Linked DNA regions of Homo sapiens. The protein of the gene in region 2 purifies or fractionates together with the protein of the main gene of each other region. This does not show direct contact. Each region holds a gene or a part of one and is shown on either strand. Other genes may lie near its edges.

The links. The genes of interacting proteins can lie anywhere in the genome.
Region 1: the proteins of NUCB2 (region 2) and HINT3 purify together in Homo sapiens (co-immunoprecipitation; one large-scale study listed by IntAct). This does not show direct contact.
Region 3: the proteins of NUCB2 (region 2) and SLC29A2 fractionate together in Homo sapiens (co-fractionation; one large-scale study listed by BioGRID). This does not show direct contact.
Region 4: the proteins of NUCB2 (region 2) and OSBPL11 purify together in Homo sapiens (co-immunoprecipitation; one large-scale study listed by IntAct). This does not show direct contact.

What each region holds. Positions count from the first base shown.
Region 1 is NC_000006.12:125,955,589-125,960,259, reverse strand, and holds the start of HINT3 (adenosine 5'-monophosphoramidase HINT3), read right to left. Parts: upstream 3,491-4,671; 5' UTR 3,283-3,490; coding exon 3,082-3,282; intron 1-3,081. UniProt on the Homo sapiens protein: Exhibits adenosine 5'-monophosphoramidase activity, hydrolyzing purine nucleotide phosphoramidates with a single phosphate group such as adenosine 5'monophosphoramidate (AMP-NH2) to yield AMP and NH2.
Region 2 is NC_000011.10:17,296,456-17,301,283, forward strand, and holds part of NUCB2 (nucleobindin-2 isoform 1 preproprotein), read left to right. Parts: intron 1-4,828. UniProt on the Homo sapiens protein: Calcium-binding protein which may have a role in calcium homeostasis. Acts as a non-receptor guanine nucleotide exchange factor which binds to and activates guanine nucleotide-binding protein (G-protein) alpha subunit GNAI3.
Region 3 is NC_000011.10:66,368,271-66,373,120, forward strand, and holds the start of SLC29A2 (equilibrative nucleoside transporter 2), read right to left. Parts: upstream 3,491-4,850; 5' UTR 3,322-3,490; coding exon 3,293-3,321; intron 3,056-3,292; coding exon 2,974-3,055; intron 1,263-2,973; coding exon 1,099-1,262; intron 930-1,098; coding exon 790-929; intron 402-789; coding exon 267-401; intron 1-266. UniProt on the Homo sapiens protein: Bidirectional uniporter involved in the facilitative transport of nucleosides and nucleobases, and contributes to maintaining their cellular homeostasis. Functions as a Na(+)-independent, passive transporter.
Region 4 is NC_000003.12:125,549,808-125,554,035, forward strand, and holds part of OSBPL11 (oxysterol-binding protein-related protein 11), read right to left. Parts: intron 2,873-4,228; coding exon 2,374-2,872; intron 1-2,373. UniProt on the Homo sapiens protein: Plays a role in regulating ADIPOQ and FABP4 levels in differentiating adipocytes and is also involved in regulation of adipocyte triglyceride storage. Weakly binds 25-hydroxycholesterol. Interacts with OSBPL9 to function as lipid transfer proteins.

The DNA.
Region 1 (4,671 bases), on a different chromosome or scaffold from region 2:
AAGTGGGAAGAAAATCACACAACTAAGCAGACTGGTATGACCTGAAATTGAATGTCCTCAACCTCACGTGACCCGCTGTACAACAATCCTTGTTTCCCTAATTCTCTCTCCTAGCCTTCACAGGAGCTACTTCAAACCTTTTACTTGTAAATAACCATATAACCATATAATTGCTCCTTCTCCTTTTTCAAGGCTTAACCCAAATGTCACCTGCTTAGTGCAGATTTTCCTGACTAAAATTTTAAAACTGCATCCCCTTCCTCTTTATTTTCTGCCATCTAATAAACTATAAATTTTACTTATTGTTTTGCTTATTATCCTTTTCTGCAACGACAATGTGAGCTCCACAAGGGCAAGGAGTTTTGCATGTTTTGTTTACGGCTGTATCCCCATGCCTCCAACAGTGCCTGGCACACAGAGAGTGAGGAATGAGTTTCCTCTTTCCCAGGGTCAACATTCTACCCGCCGGGCCATTTTAAACCTCTCTCTATAGGCATCTTCCCACTGGGATTTGAACACACAAAAGGTTTCACTGTTTTAAAAGCTTTCTCTTAATCCCCAACTTCTCCTGTAGCTACCACTACCTTTCCCTCCTCCCCTGGATTGCCAAATTCCTGTGAGAGTTGTCTGTATTTGCTGTCTTCACTCCTTCCTTTCCCAAGTTCTTCTCAATCAACTGCTATCTGCCTTTTGCTTCACCACTTCATGAAATTGCTCTCCTCAAGGTCAATGAACATCACTTTGGGGACACAACCAGTCCTGCTCTGACTCTGCAAGGACATACAAGGGTCATCTAACCCAGATTTGAGGATGAAGGCAGGCTAATATTGCTGCTGACATTGCTGGCAATTCCTTTCTTTTTGACATACTCCCTTCTCTTAGCCTTTCCAGCGTTCCTTCTATTTCTCTGTTCCTTCTCTATTCCCTTTCCAGGTCCTCTTCCTCTGTCTGTCCCTTATGATGTTAGTGTTCTTCAGAGTTCTGTGTAGGCCTCCCCTTCACTTTTTACCTCATGGGTGATCTCATCGCTTCCCTTCTTTTTCAGTTTCCATCTATAAACCGACAGTTCCTGTAATCTGGGTTAGAGATACAGATCCCTCTACAGAGTGCTAGACTATCCAACCATTTAAAAGACATCTCTACTTAGATGCCTCAAACTCACCTCAAACTCCACAACTCCATAGCTCAACTCATCGCTTTGCTACCTCCCACCACTCCCCTGGCCATCTTTTCTCCTCCTGTGTTCCCGAGCTTAATGAAATGGTACCACCACTACTAGTTTACCCTAGCCAGAAACCTGGAAATCATCTTTGACTTCACCCTCTTTCATTTCCTTATCCTCTTATATCTAAATCAGGGTTTCTAAACCTTGGCACTTCTGACATTTTGAGGGCTGGATAAGCCTGTTTTATGTGTGTGTGTTGATGGGGTGGTGGGGGTGCTGTCCTGTGCACTGTACCATGTTAATAGCAACCCTGGCTTTTATCCATTATTTAGGTCCCAGAAGCAACCCCTAGAAGTGCCAGAAGTTGTTACAATCAAAAGTATCTCAATACATTGCAAAATGTACCCTGGGAGGGCAAAATTGCCCCCAGTTGAGAATCACTGACCTGTATCCATCAAGTCCTCCCTGTTTTACCTCCTGAATACTGTATCCCTTAAATTGATATACTTTTCATAATCTCCTCTACCACATTCTCATTTCAGGCCATCATCAGGGTAGATTAATCTACTAGCCTTCTAACGGGTCTCCATACCTCCAGACTGGTCTCCTCCAAATCATTCTCCACAATGATGCCAGAATGACCTTTCAAAGATCAACCCCCTTCCTATAACTCCGCAACATCTTCCTCCCAACCCACCATTAAACATTGTGAAGTTTCACTTTGCTCTTCAGATAAAGACAAATTCCTTCACATGACTTCCAACACACTTAATAATCTGGTCCCTTGTTTACCTCTCCAGCCTCGCCTTTCATCCTCTCAAACTCTATGCACTAGTTAGACAATTTCTGTTAGTTTTTCTATCACACAAACTGAACCTCTCGGGGGGTCTCTCAACCTGGGACATTATTCTCTCCATTTCCTCATCTGATCAACTCCTACTTATTTCTTCATGTCTCATTTCCTCTGGAAAGCCTTCCCTAATTCTTCAGAGCTGGGTTAGATGCTCCTCCCACAAGCTTACAAAATACTGTAAAATCACCTGACCACAGCACGAGGCATTGTAACTGGCTACCTCCTCTGTATACATTCCGCCCTTTAGATTGTAAAATCGGGACACAGACTGTCCCTTATCTTGCTCAAAAACCTCCAAAACAAGGTGCTTAGAAGGAATTATATTTATTTTTTAAAAAATAAAGGAATGTTTACTACAAAAGACACAATCTTTGGAGCTAATTCTCTCAAAAAGTTGTTTCTATATGGACAAGTAAAACCAACAGAATAAAGTGTGTGCCAGATTATCCGTTTAAAAATATCTGGGCAAAGTCTTCATGCTCTGAAAATGTCCACGCATCCCAACTGACAGTGGAATTCAGAGGCAATTCAATAATAGTTTGACCTCAGACCCACTCCCTCCAGCCTATTTTCTGCCAATCTAACAAACAGCTTTCCACAATTATCATTACCTATTTTCTACTAGTTTTCTCATCAGTATCGGTATTAGAGTGTGCAGGATTTAAAATCAGTATCTTGAAGGTGGAGAAGAATCCTTGTAATAAAAGCAGAGGCCACAAAATGTTATTTGTACCAACTACCTGGGTACCTGCAAACATAGGCCAAAGCATTCGGCCCTGTCATTCACTCTTTGCCCCTGGGAACAGCAAAGATACCGCTGGAGCCACTGCCTGTCAGTCCCCTAGGAGTGAGTCTGTCATCAGCACCCGGACCCTGCAGAAAGGCCCGTAGTGGGCGTATCCCCAGCTTCCCCGAGCCCCATCCACACAGAGCGGCCCTGCCTCTGCGAGCTGAGTAGCGATCGGGATCCTCTGCACCCGCTCCACAACGGCGAGGCCTCCCTGCCGGAGCTCCGAGGGGCGGCCAGGTCCTCACCCACCCCCGGCCGCGCGTCGCCGCCCACCTCGCAGTGCAGGAGTTCGGTGCCCGGGTCCTGCCGCCCCGCGATCCGGCAGAACACGCAGGTGCTGTCGTAGTCCTTGGGCTCTGGTGACTTGCCAGCGGCTTCACAGGTCCCCACTGAGGAAACCGTAGTTTCTGCAGTCGCCGAGGCCTCACAGTCGGGGGCCAGGCCGGCGCTGCGGTTCACCTGTTCCTCCGCCATTGCACCCGCCCCTCGCGGCCTAGAGCCTCGGCCTCTCCAGGGCTACCGGGCCCGCGCAGTCTCCGCGTCCCGCACCTCCTCCGTTTTACCTCGAGACGTCGCCCCTCGCCTGACGCTGGGCGGTGATCCAGGCTTTGGGGAGAGGGAAGGAGACGCGGTGAGGAACTTCAAAGCCGGAGGCCGGCCTCAAAACCGGCTGCCACTAGAGGGCGCGCAATGGCGCTGCCGAGAGTCGTCCTGACCCCTGCGCCTCGTTGGTAATGACGCACGACGTCTGCCAAGTCGCAGAGCGCCCAGCGCGTCGTGGTGACATCACAGAGGCGCGGGAGCGTTTGACATAATGGAGCTTGTTGGGTGTTCTGGACAGGCGTTCTTCAAAGCCCATAGTATAGCGTGTCCAAATATTGTATTACGCTGCCGTTTTTTTAAAAAAAAAAACAAAAAGTTTTTTAAAGTTTGATTTTTAAAATTCGTAGGTTTTTAAAGAATGAGCAAAATTCCTAAAGCCTTGTTTTCAACAGACATCATGTTTGCTGCTTTTTCAGCCACGATAATTGTAGGAGTTTAAACTCAAAATGTCCAAAACTGACCTTTACATCTCTGTTGACTTTTTATTGTTGTTAACAGCACAGTTAGATCAAACTAGCGACCTTTTTTTTAATCTCACATTCCTCATATACAAGTAGATGTGGAGTCCTATAGTCAATACTCTGAAATATCCCAGAAATTCAATGCCAGTGCCTCATAATGCCTCACCTAGACCAACGCAATCACCTTCTAACTTACTTATTGATTTTCCTGTCACTCAGACAAAACCTTCTGTAACTATGTGCTCAAAGAAAAAGTACCAGTTCCTTAGCTTGGTGTTCAAGGTGGACTCTGATTTGACCTCAGCTTTTCGTTTTGTGATACTTCCCACTTGCTGAGCATCTAAAACATGCCATATATTTCTCTAATTGTCAAAAAACGCAAGGTTGGTTTTATAACCACCGCTCTAGAGATGAAGGACCAAACTCAGAGTTGCCCAGTCCCACACAACTAATTAATAGTGACAGAGTTTAAGATCAAGGTTTGTCTAACTCCAAAACCCACCAACCTTTTTGACATACAGCACTCCTTTTTTAACACCAAAAAATTTGTTGGACTAGCTCACTATAGTAGTTACACCCTTGGTATTTGCTGATTTAGAAAATACATAACAAATTGGGAATTCAGTAATGATTTTTAATGGATTTATGTTGTAATAAAAAGTGGTTGTATGTGTTTTGAATTGTTGTACATATACATTCAAGACATTTTTCATTCCTTTTTGTAGTTGGCCCGTAGTTTGGGGAACCACTACAATAGCTTCACTGCCTTTCAGCACCCCAAAGCAGAGTTCAGAATCAA
Region 2 (4,828 bases):
CCAGCCCTTAAGGAACCCTCAAGGGAAAATCATATCCAGAAATAGATTATAGGATGGATTATATGATGAGTATTTAATCTAGAAATACAGAAGGCAGACACATAATCTAATATGAAGCAGTGGGGCGAGGTGGGAAGTTATTCTTCCTAATAGAGATTATGCCAGAGCTTAAAGATGTAGTGAGAAAAGGAGAGGTACTGGGAGGCATCCTAGACAAAGGTGCAATGGTACAGAGGCAAGAAGTATATGGGAAACTGGAAGCAGTAACTGTGGCTAGACCCCAGAATGGGAAATGGAGGCCTGAGTGGCCAAAAGATGAGGTTTGGAAAGAATCACAGTCTCGTTGACAGAGGGCCTGTATATCATGTTAAGGGGTTTGGGTCATTATCTGAGGACAGTAGGAAGTTATTCAAAAGTTTGGAATAGGTGAGGTCCTGGTGTTTTAATCAGGTCCAGATTAACAGAAGAGATAATGGGCTATGTATTATATCAATCAGAGAGGTTTAACCATTTGACTCTGTCCTGAGAACCCTATTTGACATAATTCCAGCCATAGTCAGCTCTTCAGTACTCATAATAAGAAAGGGGGTTGTAAAGATCTGACATGAGAGATTCTTGTAAAGTCTTTCCTTAAAAGGAAATGAATCAGTTTAGCTGGGTTTATCTTAGACTCAGTGAGTAAAAAAAAATCCAGTTAATTTTAAAATTCCAATAATGTCTCCTAAGATAATTTTGTTTGCTTATGTTACCTTTATTTATTTAAGTTTTACTTTCTTAAAAAATTACGTTGCTTTTTTTCTAGAATCAGAATAAGAGAACTGTGTTTGAAAGACTCATTCTGGGTCAAACAAACCTTTTATTTTAGTTTCTGTTCTTGGTGTGAACTTCTTTGAAAGACTGACTCCCGTTAGGTTGTGGTGTCTGTCAGCGCTCAGGTGTGGCATTTAGTTCGCAGCTCTCCTCTTGGAAGTTGTGAACTTTTCTGGGGAAAAGGTAATAGTGTTATGCTAATAATTCCCCGGAATTGTCTTTGAGGATAATCCTACTCTTCTTCTGAAGGATTAATTCGATCTGTGGAACAAGTTTCCTATGGTGAATATATCTGATGTAGAACTCTTAATGTCTTGTATCAGGAGTAAGAACGTTATTTGGGGTGACATAGAAAATGTGGATCATGGGAGATACTACATAGAGATATTCAGGCAAAAGAAGAAAATAAGCTTCCTGGATTGGTGCAGGGAATACTTTTATAACTATCTTCCTTTCACATTCAATTCCTGTTTCTATGAAGGGTTAGGGGGAACCAAAATGAAGTTAAACAGTTACACAATAAAAAAGAAATGAGGGTCCGTGTGTGGTGGCTCACGCCTGTAATCTCAGCACTTTGGGAGGCTGAGGCAGGTGGATCATGAGGTCAGGAGTTCAAGACTAGCCTGGCCAAGATGGTGAAACCCTGTCTCTACTAAAAATACAAAAATTAGCCGGGTGTGGTGGCAGGCACCTGTAATCCCAGCCACTCGGGAGGCTGAGGCAGGAGAATTGCTTGAACCTGGGCGGCAGAGGTTGCAGTGAGCCGAGATTGTTCCACTGCACTTCAGCCTGGGCAACAGAGTGAGACTTCGTCTCAAAAAAAAAAAAAAAAAAAAAGGGGGGCCGGGGCAGTAGTTCACACGTGTAACTTTGGGAGACTAAAGCAAGAGGATGGCTTCTAGCCAGTAGTTTGAGACCAGCCTGAGCAACATAGCGAGACCCTGTCACTACAAAAAATTAAAATTTAAAATTAATTTAATTAAAAATTATCCTTCAAATTAAAAAAAAAATCATCTGAGGCCAGGCACAGTGGCTCACATTTGTAATCCCAGCAGTTTGAGAAGCCAAGGCGGGAGGATCACTTGATCCCAGGAATTCAAGAACAGCCTAGGCAACATAGTGAAACCCCTATCTCTACCAAAAATAGAAAAAATTAGCTAGATGTGGTGGTGTGTGCCTGTAGTCCCAGCTGCTCAGAAAGCTGAGGTGGGAGGATCACTCGAGCCCAGGAGTTTGAGGTTGCAGTGAGCCATGATTATATGACTGTACTCTAGCCCGCATGACACAGAGCGAGACCTCATCTCTTAAAAAAGAAAAAAAAATGAGTAAAACTAGACAATAAAACGCAAACCAATAGAATCATCACAAATAGCCAAGCAAAGACTTCTGTTTCATAAAAAACTGACAAAAAAAAAAGTTAGAATTTTCTCTTTCCTTTTTTTTTTTGTTTTGGGACAAGGTCTCACTCTGTCACCCAGGCTGGAGTACAGTGATGCAATCTTGGCTCACTGCTACCTCTGCCTCCCAGGGTCAAGTGATCCTCCCACCTCAGCCTCCCAAGTAGCTGGGATTACAGGTGTGGGCCACCTTGTCTGGCTAATTTTTGTATTTTTAGTAGAGATGGGGTTTTGCCATGTTGTCCAGGCTGGTCTCAAACTCCTGACCTCAAATGATCCCCCTGCCTTGGCCTCCCAAAGTGCTGGGATTATAGGCGTGAGCCACCATGCCCGGCCTCTCTTTCCTTTTCAGCTAAGCATTTTGAAAGGAGAATCATATTACATTTCTTCACTTCCCAAACATTCCCTAACTGGAAAGGTGATGGTACTGCCCTCACTGTTCCACTGAATATACCTTCATGGAGGGCATCCATGACTTCTTAATTGCCAAATCTAGTGAACATCCTAACATCTTTGATTCCTCATTCTACTGGGCTCCTTTATTTCTCTCAATAGTTTTTAGATTTCAGGGTTTGTTAAAACATATTGCTGTTTCCTACCTTCGGGGTGTCCAATTCAGTAACTCTAGAGCCTGCATTTCTGAAGTTCCCTGGTGATGCTGATGCTTCCAGTTGGGGACTACATTTTGACAACCATTGTTTTATCTAATAATAATGACTATTCTCTCCTTGAAATATACTGCTCTTTTTGATTCTGTAACAGTATATTCTCCTAGTTTTCCTACTAATTACTCATCTATGAAGAAAGTAATCAAAAGAGACCTAAAAAAGATAAATTTTGAAAAGCTTTTATATATGGAATGACTAATGCTTATAGAGGCCCACTGACTTTTAACTTAATTTAAATGTTCTTTTTTGCCCTAATGGTGCTGACCAACTTAACTTTTTAAAAAAATAACAAGCCAGGTGCGGTGGCTCACACCTGTAATCCCAGCACTTTGGGAGGCTGAGGTGGGTGGATTGCTTGAGCTCAGAAGTTCGAGACCAGCCTGGGCAACATGGCAAAACCCTGTCTCTACAAAAAATACAAAAATTAATCAGGCATGGTGGCATGCATCTGTAGTCCTAGCTACTCGGGAGGTTGAGGTGGGAGGACTGCTTGAGCCTGGGAGATTGAGGCTGCAGTGAGCCATGATCATGCTACTGCACTCCATCCTGGGTGACAGACTGGACCCTGTGTCATAAAATAAAATAAAATAAAATAAAAATAAATACTTTGTTGACATATAATTCATACACCATAAAATCTATCTTTTTAAAGGATAAAATTCAGTGTCTTTTTGTCTGTTTTTGTTTTGTTTTTTTTTGAGATGGAGTCTTGCTCTGTCGCCCAGGCTGCAGTGCAGTGGCATGATCTCAGCTTACTACAACCTCCACCTTCCCGGCTGACACGATTCTCCTATCTCAGCCTCCTGAGTAGCTGGGACTGCAGGCATGTGCCACCACACCTGGCTAATTTTTGTATTTTTAGCAGAGATGGGTTTTCGCCATGTTGGCCAGGCTGGTCTCAAAACTCCAGCGCTCAAACGATCTATCCACCTTAGCCTCCCAAAGTTCTGGGATAACAGGTGGGAGCCACTGCACCCTGCCATTTCAATAGTTTTTTTAAAATATACCCACAGAGTCGTGAAATCATCACCACTATCTAATTTTAGAATATTTTCATTGTTCCCCAAAAGAAACTGTGTGCCCATTAAGCTGTAACTCCTAATTGCGCCCCTTTCCCCAACCACAGCAAATCTACTTTTCATCTCTGTGGATTTGCCTGTTCTGGACATTGCATATATGTGGACTCATACAATAAGTGGTTTGTTGTGTCTGGTTTCTCTCATTTAGCATAATGTTTTACAGGTTCATTCATGTTGCAGCATGTGTCAGCATTTTATACTTTTTTATGGCCAAACAATATGCCATTGTATTGGTATACTATATTTTGTTTATCCGTTCATTAGTTGATGGACGTTTAGGTTTCTGGTTTTTTGGCGAGTATGAATATGCAGCTATGGATATTATGTTTAAGTTATTGTGTTAACATGTTTTCTGTTCTTTTAGTTATATATCTAGGAATGGAATTGTTGGGTCATGGTAACCCTATGTTTAACTTTCTGAGGAACTGCCAAACTGTTTTCTGAAGTGGCTACACCATTTTACAATTTAACCTTTTGAGTTTCTGCTTTGTGCTTTAATGATGCTTTTCTAAATTACATGGTTTTTCAGACACCTTGATTTTAGAGTTAAAGCTAATCTTTTTTTTTTTTTTTTTTTTTTGAGACGGAGTTTCACTCTTGTTGCCCAGGCTGGAGTGCAATGGCATGATCTTGGCGCACTGCAACCTCCGCCTCCTGGGTTCAAGCAATTCTCCTGCCTCAGCCTCCCGAGTAGCTGAGATTACAGGCATGGGCCACCACACCTGGCTAATTTTTGTGTTTTCAGTAAAGATGGGGTTTCACCATGTTGGCCGGGCTGGTCTCGAACTCCTGACCTCAAGTGATCTGCCCGCCTTGGTCTCCCAAAGTGCTGGGATTACAGGCGTGAGCCACCGCGCCTGGCCTTTTTTTTTTT
Region 3 (4,850 bases), about 49 Mb from region 2:
TTCAACTTCAACCTGCTGCCACATGCCAGTATTAGCCCCAGGAATCCTGCCCCTGTCCCTGAGTTAACCCAGTCCTCACTTGGTTATTACTCCTCACTGCAGGGCCCATGAGCCCCACTCCCTAGCCCCAGACCCAATCCCCATTTCCATATCACCTGCTTACCTCCATCTTCACCCAGAACCCATGTGTCTTGCTCTCACATGCCCTCTCTCTTCCCCAAACCTCAGAGGCCACCCCAGCCCTCCAGCCACCCAAGTGCACTCACTGGCCATGGACAGGAGCATGGCAAGGGCAGCAAAGATCCCAGCCAGGCCCTGGCCGCTGAGGAAGAGGGTGCTGTAGGTGGAGGGCATGGTGCCCAGCTGCCCGAAGAGGCTGCCCTGTAGGACTGCACTGAAGGCTGTGGAGGACAGGGATGGGGGCTGCTGCTCAACTAGGCAAGACTCAGAGGCTCCCTGGAGGAGGTGCCGGCAGGATACACAGGGGACTCTGGACAAGGTTGCGCAGGTGTGAGCTTCCCTAGGGACTCTGAGCACTCGGGGGCAACACCCGCTATTCAGTCCTCTTCTGAGGTGCAGCCATTGGTCTGTGGGGCTGTTGACCAGGAGGCCTGCTCCTAGGTCACCGGACAAGTGACTCTTCCCCTCCCTGTGGGCCTCAGTTTCTTCACCAGGGATATGAGCGACCATGATGCTGTCTGCCCTTCTCGGATATGCTGGGCCCTTTCAATGATGAGGCCAGGCTGAAGCCCTGCATAGGCTGGCTGGAGAGGGGGTGGAGGTGCTCACAGTTGATGAAGCAGACGGAGGCCATGGTGATGGAGAAGAAGGGTCCGGGGCTCATGTCCACCTTGACCAGCGCTGCTGTCAGGGCAAAGAGCAGCAGTATGGCCAGCAGGCTGCCCAGAATGCGCACCGTCTCCGGGACGCTGCTCAGAAGCAGGCAGAGTGCATCAGTGGGGCCCAGGCCAGAGGGGGCTGGGGAAGGAGGCTCGACACCTGGGGCTGGGCAGTAGGGCTGGGGGGCAGGGGGCGCAGGGGAGGGCCTCAATGAAGCTGCCTCGGCAGAGGGCGCAGGAGCCAGGGCAGGCCTCTCACCACTGGTACAGGAAGGAGTTGAGGAGGGTGAAGAGCAGCAGGGGCAGCTGGGACAGCAGCGTCACCCAATTGTTGAAGTTGAAGGCATCCTCGGGACCCGTGTGGTTGGTGCTCAGGATCCTGGCTGTGCTGTTGCCGGCCCCGGCCAGTCGCGCCTGGAAGTACTGCCAGGTGGGGAGGTGGTGGAGGGTCAGCACCTCTCAGCCTTCCCCCGCTGCCTTCCCCCTCACTTGTGATTGCTTTCTAATGTCTGTGGGGACTTGTCTGCCTTGTCCTTGTTCTGTTCCCAGCAGCCGGCACACAGTCGGAGCTCCATGAATGTGTGCTGAGTTAAATGGCTGAAGTCTGGGACACAGCCTAAGCATTAAGAGCCCCCAGCAAGAGCCTCGATCCAGCCTTGGACGGCCCCTCCTCTTCAGTGCCCTGGTTCCAGCCCCCATCCCCACTCCTGCAGCAGCTGCTACATTCATTCATTCCACGGGTATTTATTGAGCGCCTACTGTCAGCCAGGCTTTGGCCTAGGTGCTGAACAACTGCATTCTCTCTAGAGCACATAGCCTGCCACTCCTCTGCTTAACCTCCTCACTCCTCAACACCCCGATTCATGCCTCCCTATTGCCTGCAGGGCAAAGCCCCAAATGGAACAGCTCTTCAGAATCAGATCCTAGTCTCCCTTTGTGCCCCATCTTCTGCTCCATCCTGCTAAGCTCCAGGCAGCCCTGGCTGTGGATCTCCCTCTAAACAGGCTGATCGTCTCTTGCCTGCCTGCCTTTGGCATGGCTGTCGCCTCGGCCTGGAATGCCCTACTGACCACACCCCTCCACATGCACTTTGCCTACCCTACTCCCAATTTACAAATCTCCTCTTCCATGAAGCAGAAGGAACTTTCTCCCTCCCCTGGGGACCCACTGCACTCTGCTGCAAGCCTGGAATGTCACGCATCATGTTACATTATTAATAGCTCTTTGGCCCCCTCTTGCTCTCAAGCCCAGGGGCTGATTCATCTCTGGGTTTCCAGGGCCCAGCACAGAGCCAGTACCCAAGAAGCATTTGCAAAGTTGTTGCAGTGAATACAGATGAATAACCCGGTCCCAAAGACAATGCAAACCCCACATTTCTGCCTTCCCTGAAGAGCCTCCCTGCTGTTTCCTCCTGTGTCCCCAGTGCCTGCTCCACAGTAGATGCACATTAAAAGTTTGTTGAATGAGGCTGGGCACGGTGGCTCACGCCTGTAATCCCAGCACTTTGGGAGGCCGAGGCGGGAGGATCACGAGGTCAGGAGATCGAGACCATCCTGGCTAACACGGTGAAACCCCGTCTCTACTAAAAATACAAAAAAAAATAGCCGCGCGTGGCGGCGGGCGCCTGTAGTCCCAGCTACTCGGGAGGGTGAGGCAGGAGAATGGCGTGAACCCGGGAGGCGGAGCTTGCAGTGAGCCGAGATGGCGCCACTGCACTCCAGCCTGGGCGAAAGAGCCAGACTCTGTCTCAAAAAAAAAAAAAAAAAAAAAGTTTGTTGAATGAATGAGTGAATGAATGAAATTCATGGTATTTCAAAGAAAATCAAACGTTCGATAACCGACTTTTGGGGTGACTGACTCAGGAATAACGACACACAGAGAGGGGTGGCAGCGCCTTTGCTCATTCCAGACCCTGTGGGCTGGTGGCCTTGCCCCTCTGAGATGTGGGCATTGCTGAAGTTCTACTTTCCTAGCCACGGGGGAAGCATTCCCCTCTCCGAGCTTCAGCCCATAATGAGCTCAACGAGGGGTCACAGGTGCGCGGTGAGGAAGCGCCCGCTAAGCTTCATCCAAAGGGCTGGAGGGAGGGGTGCTGGCTGTGGCCACGAGGCTGCCACGCCGCCAGGAGTCTCACCGGGATGGCGGTGATGAAGAAGTTCCAGGGAAGGAGGGTGCCCAGCCCCAGGATGAAGAAGCTGATCCCGACCAGGTGGTAGCTGTGGGGATCGGTGGGAAGGTCACCCCGAGGACGCACCCGCCTCCGCAGGCCCTCCCGCCTCCCAGGCCACCCCCTCCGGAGCGGACTACAACCCCGATCACCCCGGTTCCGGCGGCCGAGGGAGTCGGCTGATGGGAATTGTAGTTCGATCCGGTCTTCTCTGAGCCTCGGAGCGCCTTCAGGGAGCGGGTCTGCAACGCCCCCGGCCACTTGCAACGCACCCGGGCCCACTCACCTGTCCCGCGGGGCGTCTCCTCGCGCCATGGCCGCCGCGGCGGATGCGCCTGGGGTGAAAGGGGCAGAGAAGCCGCACCTGCACCTGCGCTGGGGCGGAGGGCCGCAGACCGGTGGGGCGGGGGGCGGGTCTCCCCAGATTCCGGTGCAGGGCGGCTGGAGTCGCACAGGTAGCCTCGGGCGGATTTCGGCGTGTCTCGCGCTCCGCAGGCTGGGACCTGGGCTCCGCCCCGAGGCGGGGACAGAGGGTCGCGCCACCCGTCTCTCCTTCCCCCACCCGCCTCAGGGACTCGACTCTGGCTCGGGCCCCGCCCCACCTAGGGGCCTGCGGAACCCGCCCGCTCCCCGCACAGCCCCTCCCCGCAGCCCCCCGTCCTCTCCGCGGGGGCGGGTCCCGGATCCCTGCGGCGGAGGGGAAGGCGGGGGTAGGGACGAGGTGTAACCTCACCTCCACCCCCCGCCGAGAGCTCTGTAGGGGCAGCACTGGTGCGGGGCTCTTCCCGCTTCGTCAGCTCCGAGGTGATGCCAGAGCCGCTCCTGCGACCCCTAAAGCTGGAACCCACCGGGGCGCCCCCTAACTAGGGAGCCGCTGCGGAGTCCCCGCCCAGAGCGTAACCCGAGCCGGGCCCGGGCGGGGGAACCAGAGCTGCCACAGGTCGCCCGCGATCCTGGCGGGCTTCGCCGCGCTGGGTCCCCGGGAGTGCCTGGAAAAAAACAGCATTACTTTCAACTCCCTACTCTTTTTCTGTTAAAAAAAAAAATTTGAAAAGACTATAAATCATTAATTTGCTCCTACTCTCATAATCTACGAATAGGTGTGGGTTCTCTGCAATCCCCGGGCGTATCGGGGACGCTGGAGAAGTGAGAGGCTCCAAAACACAAACTAGTTTTTTTGAGACTGAGTGTCGCTCTGTCGCCCAGGCGGAAGTGCAGTGGCGTGATCTTGGCTCACTGCAACCTCCCCCTCCCAGGCAGGTTCAAGCGATTCTGGTGCCTCAGCCTCAGGAGTAGCTGGGACTACAGGCGCATGCCACCACGTCCGGTTAATTTTTGTATTTTTAGTAGAAACGGGGCTTCACCAGCTCTACTGAAGAGGTGGCCAGTCTAGTCTCGAACTCATCTTTTGACCAGGCTGGTCTCGAACTCTTGACCTCAGGTGATCCGCCCGCATCGGCCTCCCAAAATGTTGCTATTACAGGCGTGAGCCACCACGCCCGGCCACAAACTATTTTCTTAAGCAATGACATTTTATAGCCATTCCCAGGTTGCTTATGTTTTTCCTCCAGCCGACTGAGAGTCTGTAGGGGCAGAGGCTGTGCTTATCTGGTCCATTGGTTTACTGGCAGCATCTAGCGCCGTTGAGTGATAAATGGGTGGTTGCAGTAAAATGCAGGTGATTTTAGGGAGAACAGAGACAGCATTAAATTACACCGAAAGAGAAAGTTATTCTTCCCATTTTCTTTCAAGCCTCTGAATATGTCAAGGGTGTTAACAGGTTGCTAACACTTCTTAATCTGCCTTCCCATCCCTTCCCCTCAGTTAGCCTCAGAGGGTCTGCT
Region 4 (4,228 bases), on a different chromosome or scaffold from region 2:
TTCCTTTCTTGCAGTGTGAGAGGCTACCATTTCCAGATTCTTACTGTTACATGAACTGATAAGATTAACTGTCCTTTGGGAGAGTGTCAAAGAATATGGTTCTAAATGTGTCTATTCCTTAACATTTATGACCTTAGACATGTCTCATCATCTCTAGACTTCAGTTTTTTTTCACTTATAAAATAAGCAAGTTGATCTATGAAGTGCTTAAGGCTAACGTGACGGAGCTTATGATGGAGGGTAGCAAACTTTTTGTTTTTAACTAATAAAATATGAATGATTTCAGCTGGGTGTAGTAGCTCACAACTGTAATCCCAGAACTTTGGGAAGCTGGGGTGGGTGGATCACTTGAGCTCACAAGTTTGAGACCAGCTTGGGCAACATGGCAAAAATCTCATCTTTACAAAAAATACAAAAATTGGTTGGGCATGGTGGCGCACGCCTGTAATCCCAGCTACTGTGGAAGCTGGGGTGGGAGGATGGCCTGAGCCTGGGAGGCAGAGATTGCAGTGAGCCAAGATGGCCCCACTGCACTTCAACCTGGGCGACACAGCTAGACCGTGTCACACACACACACACACACACACACACACACACACAACAAACAAAAAAAAAAAAAGAGAGTACTTTCTAATGTTATAAAAGTTGTAATTAACTTGAAATATTATTTGGAAATTGGTAAGACATATTACAACAGAACTTAAAAATGAGGAAAACTGAAAAAGAGGATACTTTCTTCATAACGACTATAACACAATCTCAAAATATTAGATTGGCTTAATGATGCCATGCTTACACTGTAAGATGACATTCAGAGCATAGTGTTCTTTGCATAAGAGTTTTCCTTTAACATAAAAGTGGTATTTTTTTCCTATCATTATATTTTCATTAACTCTTCAATAATTTCTGTGGAGATTTTTGTTTTTGTTTCATATTCTTGGTCAAAAAACTCTGCATTTCCAAAAATAATTTTTTCATAATCTTCTGATGAAGTAGAATTAACTTTTATCAGCATATATTTTTAAATATTCTATGAATAGCACCTAAATATTCTATGAATAGCACCTCTGGCCTCCATCTCCTAAAGTGCTGAGATTACAGGCTAATGCCTGGAGGTGGAGGCCAAAGGATCACTTGAGCCCAGGAGTTCATGACCAGCCTGGGCAACATATTGAGACCCTGTCTCTAAAAATAAAAATTAAAAAAATTAGCCTAGCATGGTGGTGCATGCCTGTAGTCCTAGCTACTTGGGAGGCTGAGGCAGGAGGATGGCTTGAGCCGAGTAGGTCAAGGCTGCAGTTAGTTATGACCATGCCACTGCACTTCAGCCTGGGCAACAGAGCAAGACCCTGTTTCTAAAAAAAAAAAAAAAAAAAAATTAAATTAAATTAAATTAAAAAAAAGGATGGAAAATCTATTTCATAGAATATTATGCAGTCATTAAAATATGTTTTATCAATGACATGATAAAATGAATATATTTAATTTAAAAAGCAGGACTCAAAACTATATATATTATTAATTCTAATTTTATAAGGCTAAAAGTATGAACATACACACACAGAAAAAGTATAAAATATTAAATTTATATATATATGGATGCAGGCATTACAGAAGCTTTTATTTTCTGCTTTGTACTTTTCTAGTTTTCCAAATATTTGATAAGAAATATTTAAAATCGCCAGGCACGGTGGCTCATGCCTGTAATCCCATCACTTTGGGAGGCCGAGGTGGGTGGATCATCAGAGGTCAGGAGTTTGAGACCAGCCTAACCAACATGGTGAAACCCCCCATCTCTACTAACAATATAAAAATTAGCTGGGTGTGGTGGCATGGTGGCAGGCGCCATAATCCCAGCTACTCGTGAGTCTGAGGCAGGAGAATCGCTTGAACCTGGGAGGCGGAGTTTGCAGTGAGCGGAGATAGCACCATTGCACTCCAGCCTGGATGACAGAGCGAGACTCCATCTCAAAAAAAAGAAAAGAAAACAAACGAAAAGAAATATTTAAAATCAGAAAAAAATAATTTAAAAAGAGAATTTACATTAGTTCATAGATATACTCCTCCCATCCCCACAAGAAGCATTCTGGAACACTCTAGAAATTGGAGCGAAAAAGTAACATAATATTTTAAACTTAGAGTTAATATTTATCTGGGGTTCCTAAATTTAAGATTGTAGTTTGATATTAAAAATTATAAAACAGGCACTTGACCTTCACGTGCCTGCTTGGGTTTCTCCCAAGCGAACTTTCCTTTCTTTCCTGTTCTAAAGCCTTTTAAAGTAAACTTTCATTCCTGCTTGGAAAAAAAAATACATATATATATGTGTGTGTGTATATATATATATATATATAAAATAATTTTTCTACTTACCTTCTCCAACCATTGTCACGCCTATTGACATGCCTAAGAACTTGCTCTTAGTCCAGACATGCGCATTTACACACATCTTCCTCTCTGTACATTCTGCATAAAATCCTGAGACTGGAGGATGATGAGAAACCTGCTCAGCAACAAATCTGACTGTGTAACAGTCTGATCCCACCTGGGTCAAAGACTCCCCCGATAAAGGAGCATGATTTGTGACTCCCTGGGTGGAAGAACTGCTAAAAACACTGGATGCTACCTCGCTTTTTGGCATCTTCCAGGAACAGTGAAATGTTTCTCCAATGATAGGATTGTATGGTTTTTTAGCAATGGCTCCCTTACGGCCTTCATGAAATGAGGTAAGGTAGTACTCAACAAAGCGAATCATTCTGTCCTCAGCTGTGGCTCCATTAGTGATGGCTATAAATAGGTCTGGATGAGACATAAAGTCTGCATACATTTCCAGCAAGGAACGCTTCTCTAGGATAAATGTAGGAAGCACCACCTAAAACAACAATCAATGAAAGAGGGGAAATTTAATCCATGTGTAGCATATCTGTAGACAACTATTCTCTCTCTGAAAACATTTCATTCTAGATGGGTATTAAAAACAAAGTCACAAAGAAAAAGTATTCAGTCACATTAAAAAATAAGCATTCTTGGCCAGGCGCAGTGGCTCATGCCTATAATCACAGCACTTTGGGAGGCCAAGTTGGGAGGATTGTTTCAGCACAGGAGTTCGAAACCAGCTGAGGCAACATAGTGGAACCGTGTCTCTACAAAAGTTACAAAAATTAGCTGGGCATGGTGCCTTGTGCCTGTGGTCCCAGCTGCTCAGGAGGCTGAGGTGGGAGGATCACCTGGGAGGTCAAGGCTACAATGAGCCATGACTGCGCCACTGCACTTGTACCTGAGCAACAGAGTGAGACCCTGTCTTAACAACAACAACAAAAAAGCATTCTTAAAAGGACAGGCAAATCTGCCCAAGACTAAACATAAATTCAAGAGAGTCAGAAGAAACTTCAAAAAAATCCTCAAACTTCTAGACTGGATAAAAGTATCACCAGGGAAATGGTGTTAAAACTCAAAGTAAATGTTAGCCATGCCTTTGCTCCTTTCCTATGTTAAAATTAAATTGTAGATGAATGACCAAGACATGAGAAAAGTCAATAAATGTCATTCCCTGAGAACAGACTAAAGAGATCACAGACCGAAGCAAAAACTGCAACATATATTTAATCTTAAGCACAAGAGAACTATTTCCAATAAGAGAAATTTTTATACTTAAAACCAGGTAAGTGTAAGAAAGATAAATATTTTACTTAAAGCAGAGTTGGGAGAGGCACTGCAAAATGGTTTAAACGTCTGAGAAAGCAAAATCTGGCAATATTTTTCAAGAGCCCTAAGATGTTCTTACCCATTTAGCCTAGTACTTACATTCCAAGAATCTAGCCTTAGGAAATAAATAATTGAATGAAGGAAAAGCAATGTGAAAAAATAATTAGAACAACCTGCATTTTAAACTACGGTTCTAGCTAACTGAAGTAGGGAACTTTCATTTAATTGACTATTATAGTCATTTAAAAAGACGGTTTTGAAGATGATACAAATAATACAAAAGACAGTGGATGTTGCAGGTTCAGCTGGTGAATTGAACACATGCATCTTAATTTCACTTTCTGTCGAAATTCCACTGAAATTAAATTAACTTCATATAAAGACAAACCCAGAGATACCAGGAAAGTAGACAAAACACAACAAAATTTTGAGAGTTCCTAACTAGAAAGCTGAAACTTAGGCAGTAGGTTACAATATGCACAGATTCCTAAAAAGGCTCAGGAGCTGATCGCACTAGGTACCT